4 linked regions of the Homo sapiens genome follow. The protein of the gene in region 2 interacts with the protein of the main gene of each other region in a biochemical or structural test. Each region holds a gene or a part of one and is shown on either strand. Other genes may lie near its edges.

Evidence for each region. The genes of interacting proteins can lie anywhere in the genome.
Region 1: the proteins of NEDD4 (region 2) and RNF7 form a complex in vitro, tested with the Homo sapiens proteins (2 studies listed by BioGRID, with this or other methods).
Region 3: of the proteins of NEDD4 (region 2) and PPARG, one has a biochemical effect on the other in vitro, tested with the Homo sapiens proteins (2 studies listed by BioGRID).
Region 4: the proteins of NEDD4 (region 2) and HNRNPUL1 form a complex in vitro, tested with the Homo sapiens proteins (2 studies listed by BioGRID, with this or other methods).

Annotation. Positions count from the first base shown.
Region 1 is NC_000003.12:141,741,298-141,745,088, forward strand, and holds part of RNF7 (RING-box protein 2), read left to right. Parts: intron 1-1,346; exon of another isoform or gene 1,347-1,610; intron 1,611-2,211; coding exon 2,212-2,259; exon of another isoform or gene 2,260-2,260; intron 2,261-3,791. UniProt on the Homo sapiens protein: Catalytic component of multiple cullin-5-RING E3 ubiquitin-protein ligase complexes (ECS complexes), which mediate the ubiquitination and subsequent proteasomal degradation of target proteins.
Region 2 is NC_000015.10:55,856,914-55,862,197, reverse strand, and holds part of NEDD4 (E3 ubiquitin-protein ligase NEDD4), read left to right. Parts: intron 1-1,419; coding exon 1,420-1,537; intron 1,538-1,623; coding exon 1,624-1,791; intron 1,792-5,284. UniProt on the Homo sapiens protein: E3 ubiquitin-protein ligase which accepts ubiquitin from an E2 ubiquitin-conjugating enzyme in the form of a thioester and then directly transfers the ubiquitin to targeted substrates. Specifically ubiquitinates 'Lys-63' in target proteins.
Region 3 is NC_000003.12:12,379,570-12,383,479, forward strand, and holds part of PPARG (peroxisome proliferator-activated receptor gamma), read left to right. Parts: intron 1-134; coding exon of another isoform or gene 135-142; coding exon 143-362; intron 363-1,752; coding exon 1,753-1,922; intron 1,923-3,910. UniProt on the Homo sapiens protein: Nuclear receptor that binds peroxisome proliferators such as hypolipidemic drugs and fatty acids.
Region 4 is NC_000019.10:41,288,372-41,292,281, reverse strand, and holds part of HNRNPUL1 (heterogeneous nuclear ribonucleoprotein U-like protein 1), read right to left. Parts: intron 38-3,910; coding exon 1-37.

The DNA.
Region 1 (3,791 bases), on a different chromosome or scaffold from region 2:
AGACCCAGCCTTGGTCATTTTGGTGTCCCCAGTGCATAACTCCTTGCACAGAGGAGATAGTAATTGTGGGATTGAAGAAAACCTCAGGAGGCAGTGGTTGTTTTTAATCCACACTGAAGAGACTAGGGCAGTGGTGTTTTTTTAAGGGTAAGAGCATGTGGAAAGGAGCAAACAAATGCCTGAGCAGAATCCAGTGTAAGAAGAGAAGCAGGCTTCAACTTAACCGTGTTTCTATTTTTACAGAATTATTTTTCTCCTATTTATGTTAAAAACTATTTTCTGTTGGTTCAAACTTCCTTTTACCCAACTCTGACTCCTCTTCCAGCTAGTGAATGAGTCCATTTTTGCTCCCTAAAATATTCTATATTACTTTTTTCATTAAGCTGATAGTATTCCAGATTGAATTTTGAAAACTTCTAGTACAGCCTTTAGGATCTCATTTTTAGTATTTACACCTACTCCACTATATTAGAAGTTACTATAAGCTCACTGGGCATGCTCATGGGCAGTTTATTTTCAAGGCACCCTTTTAAATAACCCATACATATAATGTTAGTATTTGTTTATATATACATCAAGAAATTCTAGAAGGATACCCAAGAAACCAGTAATAAAGTAATTTATTAAAAGACTTTACCATTGTTGGGTAAATACTTTGGGCTCAGACTTATCTGTATTTTCTTTCTTTCTTTTTTTTTTTAAAAAAACTTTTAGGTTCAGGGCTACAAGTACAGGGTTGTTACATAGATAAACTTGTGTCACAAGGGTTTGTTGCACAGATTATTTCATCACCCAGGTATTGAGCCTAGTACCCATTAGTTATTTTTCCTGATCCTCTCCACCTTCCACCCTCCAAAAGGCCCCAGTGTGTGTTGTTCCCTGCTATGTGGCCATGTGTTCTCATCATTTAGCTCTCAAGCATTTTCTTTTTTTTTTTTTTTTTTTTTGAGACGGAGTCTCGCTCTTTCGCCCAGGCTGGAGTGCAGTGGCGCTATCTCGGCTCACTGCAAGCTCTGCCTCCTGGGTTCACGCCATTCTCCTGCCTCAGCCTCCCGAGTAGCTGGGACTACAGGCGCCCACCACCACGCCCGGCTAATTTTTTGTATTTTTAGTAGAGACGGGGTTTCACCATGTTAGCCAGGATGGTCTCCATCTCCTGACCTCGTGATCCGCCCGCCTCAGCCTCCCAAAGTGCTGGGATTACAGGCGAGCATTTTCTTACAAAGAAAAAACCTTAGTGTTTAGGGATATCTAGTATTTACTTATTTTATCTGTAAAATTCTCACCAGTTTGTATCATCCCCACTTAATATATAAATACCTCACAGTATTGTCCCTTTTTTACAGATGAGGGAATTGGAGTTCGTAATTGGTCCGAGGCCCTGAACCTAATAAATGCCAGTGAAATGGGATTTGACTGTAGATCTGGCTCCACAGCCCTCGCTGTCCCCTCTGTCTCACTGGCTTCTCACCAGCCTTGTCTGGATGACCATCGGTAGCAACCTATTGGAAGCATACAAAGCAGTTTATTTTAGAGGAACTCTCAAGTGTCTTAGGGTAGAAAGTAAAAAGTTGCTTCTTATGAGTTGCTAAAGGAAGGCTTCTGTGTCAGTAAGTATGGATGACTTTAAAAAACTTGTTTATGAAGCAATTTTTTAATTTAATTTTTTATAAGTTATATATTCATATAGTTCAGAAATTGAGGAAGTTATGTATATTACCTGGAAGAGTGAAAACTCTCCTTCCCATTCCAAACCCTCCCAGTAAACTTTATTATTGGTTCCTTGGGTATCCTAGTGTTTCTTGATGTATGTATAAACAAATGCTAACATATATATATGGTTTATTTAAAGGGTGTCTTGAAAATAAACTGTCCATGAGCATGCCCAGTAAGCGTATGGTAACTTTGAATATAGTGGAGTATGGCATATTTTTCTCTAGTAGTTTTCTCTCTTGGCACCGTCAGGACATCTTTTCATCAGAGCTTATAAAAATAGAGGATTTGTTAACCCTTGTGAAATTGCTCCTGGTTATAATTAGTAGAATGCCTTGTACTTTATTCCTCTTTAAGTAGTTATGTTCAGATGAGAAATTAATAGTATGAGTCTTTATTGCCATCCCTAACCCTTAGGGCTTTTGACTTTGAAGTGTCTGGTTTTTAAAAATTGCATTCTGAGCATCAGAATGAGAATCGCTATTTGTTTACTTTTAGATGCCTGTCTTAGATGTCAAGCTGAAAACAAACAAGAGGACTGTGTTGGTATGTTGTAATTTTGTTCTCTTGCTTTTTCAACTGAAGGTTTTCTCTCAGTAGGGATGTTTGAATTTGAAATTAAGATTGACTTTATCAATACACAAAAATAAACTGTAAAGCAGTGATCCATTGTTAATATAAAATATGTTGGTTCTCAAAAGAGTTTAATGGAATGAACCTGCAAGTCCTTTTATTGCCATAATTAAGAAGAATTGGTTATATATTCCAGACATGGTCATAATAAACATTTTGGTAATCAAAAATTAAATATTTTCTATTAAGAAAATTATAAAATCAGAAATTTGTCAAAACATTATTTGAATTTTGGCTATGTTATAGGTCACTTTTGGTTCTAATAAGGCATTTCACTTTTCAATACTCTTATAATACAGTATTTAACTTTAAAACCAGAGTAGAAAAATTCTAAGTCTCAAGTATATTTTTGGAATGTGGTTTGTGTATCAAATTTTCTTTAGAGTCTTAGACTACAAAAGTTGTCGTAGGCTAAATATTTTAGGCAGTTCAAAGATTTTTATGCCCTAGTTCTTGAGGTGATCAAGTCTAGATTGCTATATAAACATGTTTATAGATTTTCTTAGAATAAAAGATTGGCTTTGTATTTTGTGTTTGCATGGTGTACGTAGAACACAAATACATGGTGTACATAGAACTTCTTAATATTGATTCTTGCAGTTTTGATCCAGTTCTTCCTCCTGAAACGCTTAGAATGTTTCACCCTTGCTTCCTACCCCCTGTAGCCAATTTTCATAGGCATTTTTTTCTTTTTTTCTGCCTTATTTCTTTCATTTAATCTTTTTCTCTGCCTTATTTCTTTCATTTAATCTTTTTCTCTTGTCATATAGCTCAGTTGATCAAGCAAGGGACAGATGAATCCCAAATTCGAGATTGCATTCTAGATTGTGGATGATTTCCCTTGTTTTAAAGTTTTTCTTTCATGCTGCTTGTTTAAAAAGTATTAATTTGGGAATTGTGAGGGGCAGGCCACTTTCTTTGATCACAGAGAGACCTCTCTCTCCAGCCAGCCACTTTGAAAATTTCATCGTCACATGAGGAATTGCACTGCTTATGGGTGACTTAACACAATTCATCACTTCTAGAAAACAGCTCAGCTCAGATGCACAACTGAATGTTTAGAAGCATGTTATTTATAATAGCCTACTGCATACTAAAAACATTTACAACTCATTCTGTCTTGGTAAATAAAAATTGGAAGGACATTTTCCCATAAAATAAAGCCCAGAAGATCTCTAAGGTCAGTGCATGACTGAGAAGGTCAGATCTAAGGAAGGTTCAAGAACATTCATCTAACTTCAAGAAGACAGCATGTGGAGCTGTGTAGGAACTAGGGGTCATCACATCACCCATAGATTCTAGAACAGTGATGGAAAGGCTCTCAAACAGTGACTTATGTCTCTGTGTAACTTACACATTTAAGTTTCTGTTTCTTTATAGATAGAAAAACATTATTTTGGCCAATTAACTATCTTTTTTCAAGATTATTATTTGTAATATAAAAT
Region 2 (5,284 bases):
TTGTGCCTGATATATGCCAAGCACTTTTACAGATATTTTCTGTTCTCAAATCCTTCCAAAACAAATCAGCAATTCAAGTACTTCATGGCACAGAAGCTTCAGTCTTCATAGAGTGACGTACAGACTGCAAAGCTGAAGACACTATAAAATTCTGTAGAATTGCGCTGTTGCATACCTCAGTATTATGGCAAGCCTTACATGAGCAAAATCACAGTTCTTTCACTGTGGCTGATGTCATTTTCAGGTAGCCAAAATCATATATTTAGGGGGAAAAAAACTGAAGCATTCCCTTAGAGCCATGTATCAAAATTATGTTTTCTTTAGCTACGGTACAGTAAGAACTGGTCTTCTGACTAGCCTGAGCTCATGTCGCATTAAATAAACAGTAATTTTATTATTAAATATTTGAACAAAATTCTTGATCTGATAGACTGGTTATATTAAATGCAAATAATTAGAATAATATAAATGACTGGGGTAAGGGTGTTCAATCTGATTTTTTTTAATTTTAATTTCTGTGGGTCCCTAGTAGGTATATATGTTTGTGGGGTACATGAGAGGTTTTGATACAGGCATGCAAGGCATAATAATCACATCATGTAAAATGGGGTATCCATCCTCACAAGCCTTTATCCTTTTTGTTACAAACAATCCAATTATAGTCTTCTGGTTGTTTTTAAATGTACAATTAAATTATTATTGACTGTAGTCACCTGTTAAGCTATTAAATACTAGGTCTTATTCATTCTTTCTGTTTTTTTTAATACTCATTAACCGTCCAATCTGATTTATTGTACCTCTCCTAAGCTCAGACAAATCTTTACTATTACCTTTTTCAGGACAGGCCCATGACTGTATATTACGAAAAACAGATACCATTACTAATAGATATGTAATTCCTAAACCATTAAGCTTTTCATTATAAAGTTCTTACACCATCTTTCATTCTGCCCTTCACATTCATGCATGGAGTACTCTACTCCTGGCTTAAGACCAATTCTAGAAAATGTACTATCTGATTCACAAAGATGTATGTATGTGTAACTCTATTACTCTTATAATAACATGGCAAAATAATACAATGAAATAATCTATGAAGCGCTCTGATATTTATTCATTCAACAAATATTTTTGAGTACCTATATGTGTTGGACATTATCCTAGACATAGTGACAAACTAAAATATCAAATCAGACATGTTATACCTTTTCACAAAACCTTAAACTCCGTAAGGTACTCTAAATATACCAGTCTGCCTACCCATGATTGAATCTTTGCATGTTGAAATAGCCTTTGGTCAAAGACAATAAATTTTTTTATTGATGTAATGTAGATTTTTTTCCCAATGATCACAGAATCTTTGACAATCATTTTAACTACTTAAGACATGGATGATGGCTTTTTATACTTCCAATATAGGGACAACCTAACAGATGCTGAGAATGGCAACATTCAACTGCAAGCACAACGTGCATTTACCACCAGGCGGCAGATATCCGAGGAAACAGAAAGTGTTGACAACCGAGAGTCTTCCGAGGTATAAGTAGTTTCCTAGTTCTCCTTGAAAGACACATGCTATAGCAATAAAGTATGTGTGGCTCAAGCTTATTCTGTTCATTTTAGAACTGGGAAATTATAAGAGAAGATGAAGCCACCATGTATAGCAACCAGGCCTTCCCATCACCTCCACCGTCAAGTAACTTGGATGTTCCAACTCATCTTGCAGAAGAATTGAATGCCAGACTCACCATTTTTGGAAATTCAGCCGTGAGCCAGCCAGCATCGAGCTCAGTAAGATGCTCTTAGATTTTGTTACGGCTTCAGTAGTTTATATTATGCATATTATACTATTCAACAACTAACTTTTATGTAAAATTTTGTCTTAAATGCAATAATATGTAATAATACATTAGGGACCTTGGGACTTTACAACATGGTCATTTTTCAAATATCCTCATTAGTAGTATGGACCAGAGTCATGGCATCCAAATTTCCATTATGTCAGTGCCCTCCAGTCAAAAATCACTAGGGACACATTTGTCATTGAACAAGTTGGGTTTATTATTCATTTCAGCAAGGGAGAACACGCACCATTGGTGTTTTGGTAGCAGAATGTTAGAAAAGACTTCAGGGATTTGGGCTCCTGTTAGGTGATTTTGAAGAGGGTTTTAGGAAGCAGGACTTTGCTCTACATGAGATGCTGTTGGGAAGCAGGGATAATTCTATGATTTTGTATCTCAAATCTTATCTGTAGTGAGGCTAAAGCTATGATTAGCAAAGTAGAACAGTCACTCACATTTGCCAGGATGGGGAAATGTTTGGTATTTTGTGGCTTGGACAATGTTCATGTTTTGTCTATATTCAGCCACGATTACAGAGTGGTCTTGATTTTGTCTTGATCTTACCTATGAGTGCCAGGCCAGCTCTTGGATGTTAGGGACTGCTTTTCTCTCTCCCAGTTATGCTGAAGTTGGTTTTTTGTTTGCTTGTTTGTTTGTTTGTTTTGAGACATCTCACTCTGTCACCTAGACTGGAGTGCAGTGGTGCTATCTCGGCTTACTGCAAACTCCGTCTCCAGCTTCAGGCGATTCTCATGCCTCAGCCTCCTGAATAGCTGAGATTACAGGCGCACACCACCACGCCCAGCTAATTTTTGTATTTTTAGTAGAGATGGAGGAGTTTCACCCTGTTGGCCAGGCTAGTCTTGAACTCCTGGCCTCAAGTGATCCACCTGCCTCAGACTCCCAAAGTGCTGGGATTACAGGCATGAGCCACTGCTTCTGGCCTGAAGTTTTAACATTATATCACAGATGTCACCAACAGGTATATATGAATAAGAACTGATATACTTTGACTAAACAAGGAGATAGATGACATTTTCACTTCAGCCACCACTGTAAAAACTGTTGTCCATAGGGTTCAGAATAAAGTATCCCAGCATATGCTTCCACGATGAGAACTTCATAGCTAGCTGTCTAATATGTATCATCAAGGGAGATTGAGTAGAAGACAAAGATTATTCTCTGAGGATGCTATTTGTCATTTCCAGTTGAGGTTTCCCTGCCTTTCATTTAGTTAGTAAATATTTAATGAGAGCTGATCACATATATGCAGAGTACTATATGCTAGTTACTGAGGATACATCAGTCAATAAAATTAACAATATCTCCTGCCTTCATGGGACTTACATTCTAGTGCAGAGGAAAGCAAACTACAACCGGTGGGCCAAATCAGCAGCTGCCTGTTATGAATAATTACCATTGGAATACAGCCACATCATTTGTTTTGGTATTGCCCATCTCTGCTTTCACACGACATCATCTGAATAAAGTAGTTACAGCAGCAACCATATGGCCCACAGCCAGTATTTACTGTCTGGATCTTAACAGGAAATGTGTGCTAACCTCTGCTCTAGCATCTTCTTCAAGAAGCTTCACAGTAGATAGTTGTACGTGAATATGAATATCTGCCAGTAAATCCGCCTGCCTGCCTCCTGCCCTTCCTTTCTTCCATTTGTCTGTTCTGTCTTCCATTCATTTCATTTTTTCACAGGGGAGTGGGACAGGTCAGTCAAAGACCTAAACTACATTAGGCCAGGCGTGGTGGCTCACGCCTGTAATCCCAGCACTTTGGGAGGCTGGGATTATAGATGGGTTGAAGTCAGGAGTTCAAGACCAGCCTGGGCAACATGGCGAAACCTTGTCACTACTAAAAATACAAAAATTAGCTCGGTGTGGTGGTGCACACCTGTAATCCCAGCTACTTGGGAGGCTGAGATTGGAAGAATGGCTTGAACCCAAGAGGCAGAGGTTGCAGTGAGCCGAGATTGCACCATTGCACTTCAGCTTGGGTGACAGAGTGAAACTCCGTCTCAAGAAAAAAAAAAGAATAAACCATATTGATTTGCTGATGATAAATCACATACGATCCCATTCCCCTTCTTCCTGGTATTTTTTTTACTTAAAGTAATACATGGCAACCATATAGTGTAATACTATGCAGCCATTGAAGAGAACAAGGTGGGCTCGAGTGTATATGTTGGATGGAACAATCCCTAAGAGATGCTGGTAAATGAAAAACAGCAAGGTACAGAACAGTGTGTTTGTTACACCAGAATTTATGTAAATTATTTAAATGCAGAGCATAAATATGTGTATAATTTACTCGAGGACTAAACAGGAAACTAATAACTTTGCTTGCCTCTGAAGAGAGGCAAAGAATGAGCAGGATATATATTGTTTGTACCTTTTGTTTTTTTGAGATAGGGTCTCACTCTGTCGCCCAGGCTGGAGTGCAGTAGCATGATCATAGCCCACTGCAACCTCAAATTTCTGGGCTCAAGGGATTCTCCCACCTCAGCCTCTGGAGTAGCTGGTACTACAGGCACATGCCATTGTACCCCTGCTAATTTTTTTAAAAAATTTTTGTAAAGACTTGGTATAGTATTGTTTCCCAGGCTCCTTTTGAATTTTATAACATGTATGAGTGTTACCTATTTTAAAAAATATTTTTAAAGCACTGTATGGTTATGGTTACAAATTGAGATTGTATTTAGGTATATAAAATAAAATTTAAGACTGGGCATCTTGGCTCACACCTGTAATCCCAGCACTTTGAGAGGTCAAGGCAGGCAGATCACATGAGGTTAGGAGTTCGAGACCAGCCTGGCCAACATGGCGAAACCCCGTCTCTAATACAAAAATTAGCCGAGTGCAGTGGCGTGTGTCTGTAATCCCAGCTACTCGGTAGGCTGAGGCAAGAGAATTGCTTGAACCTGGGAGGTGGAGGTTGCAGTGAGACAAGATCGCACCACCATACTCCAGCCTGGGCATCAGAGCAAGACTCTGTCTCAAAAAAATAAATAAATAATAAATAAAAATTAAACCTTCTATCTTACCACTAATATATGCTCCCTCAGTTACTATTAGTGGTCAAAGACCTAAAGAATAAATGATACTGATTTGCTGGTGATAAATCACATGCATACATATATAGAAACTTTTTCTGTATATTCATAAACATGCATGCATACACATATATTTGTAGATGATTTTTTAACCTGAGATCATCTTAAACATACTTTTTGGTAACTTGCTTTTTTCACTTGCTGTCTCTTAGACATTGAACCATTTCAGTACAGATAGATGTACTCCTTTAAAAACCAACTAAAACAGTCATTAAACTCTGGCATATTCCATTGTACAAGTAACCCTTAAGGCATTTCACCAGTCTCCTATTGAAAGACTTTAGATTGTTTACAGTACTATTATAAACAGTACTACAG
Region 3 (3,910 bases), on a different chromosome or scaffold from region 2:
TTCTTTTCTGTTGTTGTGAGCGCCCAGATGAGATTACTTTGCCAAAGACTCTTTTCATTTCTCTTTCTGAAACTCTGTGAGATTGCTGTGTTCTCTAGGACTTAACTTCACAGCTAGTCTATTTTTCCTTTCAGAAATGACCATGGTTGACACAGAGATGCCATTCTGGCCCACCAACTTTGGGATCAGCTCCGTGGATCTCTCCGTAATGGAAGACCACTCCCACTCCTTTGATATCAAGCCCTTCACTACTGTTGACTTCTCCAGCATTTCTACTCCACATTACGAAGACATTCCATTCACAAGAACAGATCCAGTGGTTGCAGATTACAAGTATGACCTGAAACTTCAAGAGTACCAAAGTATGATGTTTATTTTCACTTTTCAGACTACTAGGACTAGAATTGGACTCATCTCTCAGTAACCCTGTAATAAATAATGCTCCAGAGACTAGAAATCTAATAGAGAAGGCATTCACCATTCATTTATTCACCCATTTATCCATGAAATATTAGGTATCTATGAAATGCCAGGAAGGGAGCTGGCACGAGGTCAATCTTGCCTTCCCCGCCCCCTCCTTCCTTCCTCTCTTCTTTCCTTTCTTGCTTACTTCCTTCTTAGGGACATTTTCTACCTTGATTACACTGTCAGTTGTATCTCAGGCTAAGAGTCCATCATCCAAACTTTGAATTATTTTGGCCCCTTATAAGTTAATAAGTAACAATTCCAAGTCACTTTGTATTATATAACTTATCTTCACTATATTACTGCTACTACAGTACATTTTTTCTAGTATGTCCTTTCAGGAGTTTATACTGAAACCTACTTTTAAGCACAAATTTGTTTTAACATTGTAGCCTATTGATAAATTTTCATGCCATTAACTAAATCAACATCAAAACATCAGACTCAAGAAAAACTAGAACTGCACTTTTTGAGATAAAATGTATTTCTGTGATGCTATTTCCTTGATTTTTATCATGTGTGGGCTGACATGCTGGTTTTCCAAAGCCACCACTATGTAATTGGCAATCATTACTTGACAAGTAAGAACTTCCTGTATTTCTAGTGGCTTTTAAAGATAAATAATATGCTTAGTTATATTTATCTATGCGGTTTTCAGTTAGAGCCTAATATGGAAATTTAGTAGCCCTGAGCCCAACTAGTAAAAGGTAGGGCTTACTTCCATAAGTTCCGCCACGCTCTGTCAAAGATTATTTCACAAACCACCTCCTTTGACTGAACACTAATGGTAACCTGGGCTCATATTTTTCATGCACCTCAAGCTAGGCATACCATGACCTTTTCACAGTGGTGTTCCTTCTGTGGTTCTTTTGCAAGTTGTTTCAAAGTACTTATAAAATGGAATATTTAAATAAAATGTATAATTTAATATTGTGATGAATACCAAAGACAGAACATTTCCTAGCAAAATAAGCTTCCTTGTCTCAAATCCTCTATGTTGTCTGTTACAGCTGTAGTATTGCAGGCTACTGGGGGTCATAGAACCACAGACTTAATTCTCATTCCCATTTTATATTTACAGGTGAGGCTTAGAGATGTTATAACTTGCCTGTGATTACAAACCTTTCTTTTTCTTGCCTTAACTCCAGTGTTTTTTCATGTTCCACTGTGCTTTTACACTGAAACAATACAAATACAGCATGAAGGTGTACTATGGTGGCTTGCCCTGTTGCCTTTTTAGGACTGTTTTCATGGGATAATTATCCTCTCACATGTCTCCATACACAGGTGCAATCAAAGTGGAGCCTGCATCTCCACCTTATTATTCTGAGAAGACTCAGCTCTACAATAAGCCTCATGAAGAGCCTTCCAACTCCCTCATGGCAATTGAATGTCGTGTCTGTGGAGATAAAGCTTCTGGATTTCACTATGGAGTTCATGCTTGTGAAGGATGCAAGGTAATTAAAAAAAAAGTCTTCAAAGAAATTGTTGAAACTTTATTATTTCATTTCAGCAGAACCCCTTTTTTAGGTGATACAATATATGAATTTTTTTTCTTCATGGAAGAGTATCTTGCTCTGTCACCCAGACCAGAGTGCAGTGGTGCTATCCTAGCACACTGCAGCCTTGAGCTTCTGGGCTCAAGTGATCCTCCCACCTCAGCCTCCCAAAGGATGATATAAGATTTGAAAGCCTAAGAAAGTGGATAAAAGTTGGGCTGCTTTGCCCCACATTTGTTTCTCCAAATTGATTCTTTGAGACACTGATCTAATTTAATCCTTGCATCTTGCAGATTTTTACAAAAAGGTGACTTCTCCAAGGTGTCATGGCAAGACAGTGATGACCTGGAACCAGGATGCAGATTTCCTGCATTCTCTAGTTGTTTATTTATTTATTTATTTATTTATTTTGCTATACCGTGTAATATTGTATAGACAGAAGATTTTACAGATTATTTATATATGCATATCTTTGGATCCCTAGAGCAATCCTATAAGATTGGACTTCTTTATGGCCACATTGCAGATGTAGAAATTACAGGTTAGTAAAACTTGCCAAGGTCATCCCTTAGTAAGTGGCAGACCGCAGTCTAGACCCTGACTCCTTAGGTGGTGTTGGCTCTCAAAGCAGTGCCTCATGTTTCCTTATTCCAGCATCAATGTGAGCCACATACACGGACAGGTAAGGAGGTATAACAGTGTGGGAAAGGAGATACTATTTATCCTCATCTCTTTCCTTTGTGAAAAGGGTATTTTGGAAAATTCAGACGTTTAGTAATTTATTGCTTAATTATTAAGAAAATATGTGAATCCACTCATATTTTGATATGCAGTCTTTTAAGATAATTTTAATATACACAATGCAAAAATAGTACTAATTTATTATATACGCATTGCACAGAATAAACTGTTCATAAATATTCACTTTATAAAATAAATACCTGCTTATTGGGCTTTTTATTCAACGTAAAGATACAGAACAACAGTTAGGAAAGTTTTAGGACATCTTGGTTCCTAAATGGATGGTGGGCCAAAAAAGGAAACTGATTTTTATTGAATTCTTACTACATGCCAAATACTGTATGAGGTAACGTTTTCATACATCAGTATTTAACCACATCCTACCCAGGTTTTCTCATCTATAAAATGATTGTGGCTGAGTGTGGTGGCTCACGCCTCTAATCCCAACACTTTGGGAGGCCAAGGCAGGAGGATCACTTGAGCCCAGGGGTTCAAGACCAGTCTGGGCAGCATAGTGAGACCCCATCCCTACAAAATTTTTAAAAAATTAACCAGGCATGGTGGCACATGCCTGTAGTCCTAGCTTCTTGGGAGGTTTAGGTAAGAGGATCCCTTGATCCCAGAAGTTCAAGGCTGCAGTGAGCTATGATCATACCACTGCACTCCAGCCTGGGTCACAAAAGCAAGACCCTAACTCCAAAAATAAATAAATAAATAAGTAAATAAATAAAATGACACTGAATTACATGATCTCTAAAGTCCCTTCAATTGAAACAGTTTTTACTCTAAAGGCAACCTAATACAGTGAAAAGGGACAAACCAGAGGTCAGCTCTGCCACTTTCCAAAGTCATTAGCCAGTCACATACACATTGTATCCTTCATCAGGCCCCCCATATGTAAAATGACTTGGTTAGATTGGCTACACAAGGTCTTATTCATCTCTAAGTTCTGTAATTTCAAAATGACACTTTGAAACACTCTGGCAAGAGATGCTTTCATTTAAAACACTAAAACCCGTTCGTTCTGTAATTTAAACCAAGTTAAAATATTTATGACCTTATATGAAATCATTGTATTAAGTCAGTTATCTAAGATCTTGATGAGTAGTAAGAACATGTCATTTTATTGACTTAGATTTTTTATTGAATGTTTTGTGGTTTTATTGAGTTTTATTTTAGATTTAATGAGTTAGAGTTTATTTTTA
Region 4 (3,910 bases), on a different chromosome or scaffold from region 2:
TAAAAGACAGTTCCACGTCATTTCCACATTCAAAATCCTAGGAGAAAAAGCCAAAGGAATATGATTGCCAACTCTTGCCATAGGCACTGGGAGTCAAATGTGAGGACAGTAGATGCAGGGAGTAGAATGTGGACAGCTTTCCAGATTGAAGTGCATCCTTCCCCAACATACAGGTAAGCTGGGCAGCATCAGTGAACATCTCAGAGAATGTCCAGCCCAAAGTCCTCCTTGCCTAAGACCCCAAAGTTGGTGGATATGAAGCAAGTAAGCAAGAGTTTTTTTTTTTTGTTTTTTTTTTTTTTGAGACAGGGTCTCACCCTGTCCCCCAGGCTGAGTGCAGTGGCACAGCTAGGGCTCACCGCAACCTCAAACTTCCAGGTTCAAGCAATCCTCCCACCTCAGCCTCCTGAGTAGCTGGGACTACAGGCATGTTCCACACCTGGCTAATTTTTAAATTTTTTTGTAGAGACAGGGTCTTGTTATGTTGCCCAGGCTGGTCTTGAAATCCTGGACTCAAGTGATCTTCCCACCTTGGCCTGCCAAACTGTTGGAATTATAGGCTTGAGCCACTGCACCTGTCCTAAAGCAGGTAATTTTAAGAAGCTCCAAGTATTTGAGTCTTGTGCCTAGACTGAGATGAAGACGAAGGAAAAGGTGGTCCAGTCCTGTCCTGAAAACTGATGAGGAGACAGGTGCAGTGGCTCACGCCTATAATCCCATCACTTTGAGCAGCCAAGGCAGGAGGATGCTTGAGGCCAGGAGTTCAAGTACAGCCTGGGTAACAGAAAGAGACCCCATCTCTACAAAAACAAACAAAAGAAACCCAGAAAGGGCAGTCTATGAATATAACAGATGAAGGAAAGCCACCGCAGGGCCTTTTCGAACTGAGTTCAGCTTGTTCAACATGTTCCCTGAGTTCGTACTCTTTCTGATACACATGTCTGCATAATCTGGGACCGACAGAGCTTAGCGACCAGTGGGGAATGAGACAAGGACACTCTATCATAATTCAGTAAGATGACCTACCTAGAAGCAAGTTTCTGAGGTTTCTCAGTTGCTTGTATATAAGCCTAGCAGTGACAGAACACAAGGTCAGATTGGCTGAGGCATAAAAGATGAGGGGGAAGTAATTCAGGAACAGCTGAAGAGCCATGCAGGGACCACATTCATTTATTCTGTAACAACTACTTATTGAATTGCTAAAGTTAGTAATTAAGATCCCCCCTCTTTTTGTTGAGACGGAATTTCACTCTTGTTGCCCAGGCTGGAGTGCAATGGCGCAATCTCGGCCCACCACAACCTCCGCCTCCTGGGTTCAAGCGATTCTCCTGCCTCAATTAGCTGGGATTACAGGCATGTGCCACCACGCCCGGCTAATTTTGTATTTTTAGTAGACGGGGTTTCTCCATGTTGGTCAGGCTGGTCTCGAACTCCTGACCTCAGGTGATCCACCCGCCTCAGCCTCCCAAAGTGCTGGGATTACAGGTGTGAGCCACTACGCCTAGCCTATGATCCCATTTTAGAAGGTGGATGGCTTCAGTTCTACCATTTACTAACTTGTGGCCTTGGTTAAGTTATTTCATCTTGTTTCTTTATCAAAAAAAGGGGGGCGGGGTAATAATATTTTATACAGCCTATGTTTATTCTAACTGTTAAATGGGCTAGTACATTTAATACACAGTGAGCACACAAGGAATGTGAGCTATCACTGCAAAATGTCAGGCACTGTGCTAGAAATAAGGGGCTGGGACTGAAGTGGTGGGAGGGGACACGGCCTACCTCGGCATGTGAGGGACTCTAATTTACCGCAGGAATTTGAACTTGATGCTGGTGGCAGAGCAGAGTGTCTGACTTATTTTGAATAGAGGAGCAGCCTGCTCAAAACTGTGTTTTGGAAACATTGCTTTGGCTGCAGGATACGAGAGGCTCTTTTTTTTCTTAGTGTTTTTTTGCCTTTTTAAAATTTATATTTTTAAAACGTTTGTTAAATATTTTTCTAAATGCCCATCTCAGAGAAGAAAAGGCTCAAAACTTGAGATTAGATAGCAGACTGAAGCAAAATACACGGTTCGCTTTCTGATATGAAAGTATAATTTCTTTCTCTATTCAGGTGACCACCTTGGGAATTGCCCTTCAAGAAGCGACAGAAGCACCCTCCCTTGAGGAGCTTCCTCATTAACCTCCTCAGTGCTCACAGGGCACAGCTCTGTGTCAGAGGCCCTCATGCCTGTTCATCTCTAAGCATGCACCCACGTCAAGACCATGGAGAGCGGCTGGATGTGGTGGTTCACGCCTGTAATCCCAGCATTTTGGGAGGCCGAGGTGGGCAGATCATGAGGTCAAGAGATCAAGACCATCTTGGCCAACATGGTGAAACTCCGTCTCTACTAAACATACAAAAATTAGCTGGTCATGGTGGCGAGTGCCTGTAATCCCAGCTACTCAGGAGGCTGAGGCAGGAGAATCACTTGAACTAGGGAGTTGGAGGTTGCAGTGAGCCGAGATCATGTCACAGCACTCCAGCCGGGCAACAGCAAGACTCCTTCTCAAAAAAAAAAAAAAAAAAAAGACCATGGAGAGCAGGTATGACTGTTGGTGTTAGTTAGCCTTCCTTATGGCCACCAGCTTCACTATAGGAACTTCCCATAATGCACAGAAACCGGCGCCCTCAACCAACCCATCTACCACCAACAGAGCCATCTGTCCAAAAGGCAAGTGGAGTTGTGTTGTTGTTCCTGCTGAAACACTCCTGTGTCAGTCCCAGGCCTAAAGACCCAAACTCCTGAAGCCTGGCATAATTCAGAGCCTGCCATTTTTATAGCCTGGTGTCTCACACCTCTTTCTGTTGTCCCTAGGCTCTAAGTATCATACTCTTTATGGTTTGCTGAAATGGGTTATTCTGTTCTCCACTTGGAAGGCTGTTTTACCTTTTTGTTTTGCAAATTGAGGACTTGATATTTGACACCAATGTCCTCCCCTCTTGTTCCAGGAGACCAATGATTTTTACACCCCCACCAACTCCTCACCCTGAGCCTTTTTAAAGTTGTGGTATCTTCTGAACAAAGAAAACTATATAAGGAATCTTAAGACTGGATGCAGAGATGTTCTGGTTGAAGCAAGAGTCAAGGCCTAGAGTTCCATACTGCCACATACCAAAAGAACCTCATACTCTGAAAGAACAGACTTTGGCAAACACTGTCACACAGTGACAAGTTAAATTACTGCAACCTGTTTGGAGTGTAGTCTTGGTGGTAGCTATGAAAATTTAAAAATATACCTTTGACTTAGAATCTAACTTTCAAGAAGGAATACAACTACATTCCCACAAGAATGCAAAATTCTATGTGCAAAATGCTCATGCCAGCACGGAAAATGTGCTCCAATGGGGAAGTAGGAGTGGCTAAATTGCACAGGAGATCCATATGTGGGGCTACAAAAAGATCTCCAAGTTACTCCAGTAAATGGAAAAAAGACAAGCCGCATTTATCTGTTCCAGGAAACAACTTTCACAGCCACTAACAGGAAGACGGGCTAAATTAAAGCAGGGTACCCAAACCCCTGCATCAGAATACTAGACAGCCATTACAGTCACTAAATACAAAGCTGCAAAAGTAACGACATGTCCACCAAAGGGAGGCGCTAGGTTAAATCAATTATGGTACAGTCATACAATGACTACAGACAATATAAAAGTACAAAGAAGCTCTCTTGGTAGTACCATAAAAAGATCCCCACCAAGGCCGGGCATGGTGGCTCACGCTTGTAATCTCAGCACTTTGGGAGGCCAAGGAGGGCAGATCACCTGAGGTCGGGAGTTCGAGACCAGCCTGACCAACATGGTGAAACCCTGTCTCTACTAAAACTACAAAATTAGCCGGGCATGCTGGCGCATGCCTGTAATCCCAGCACT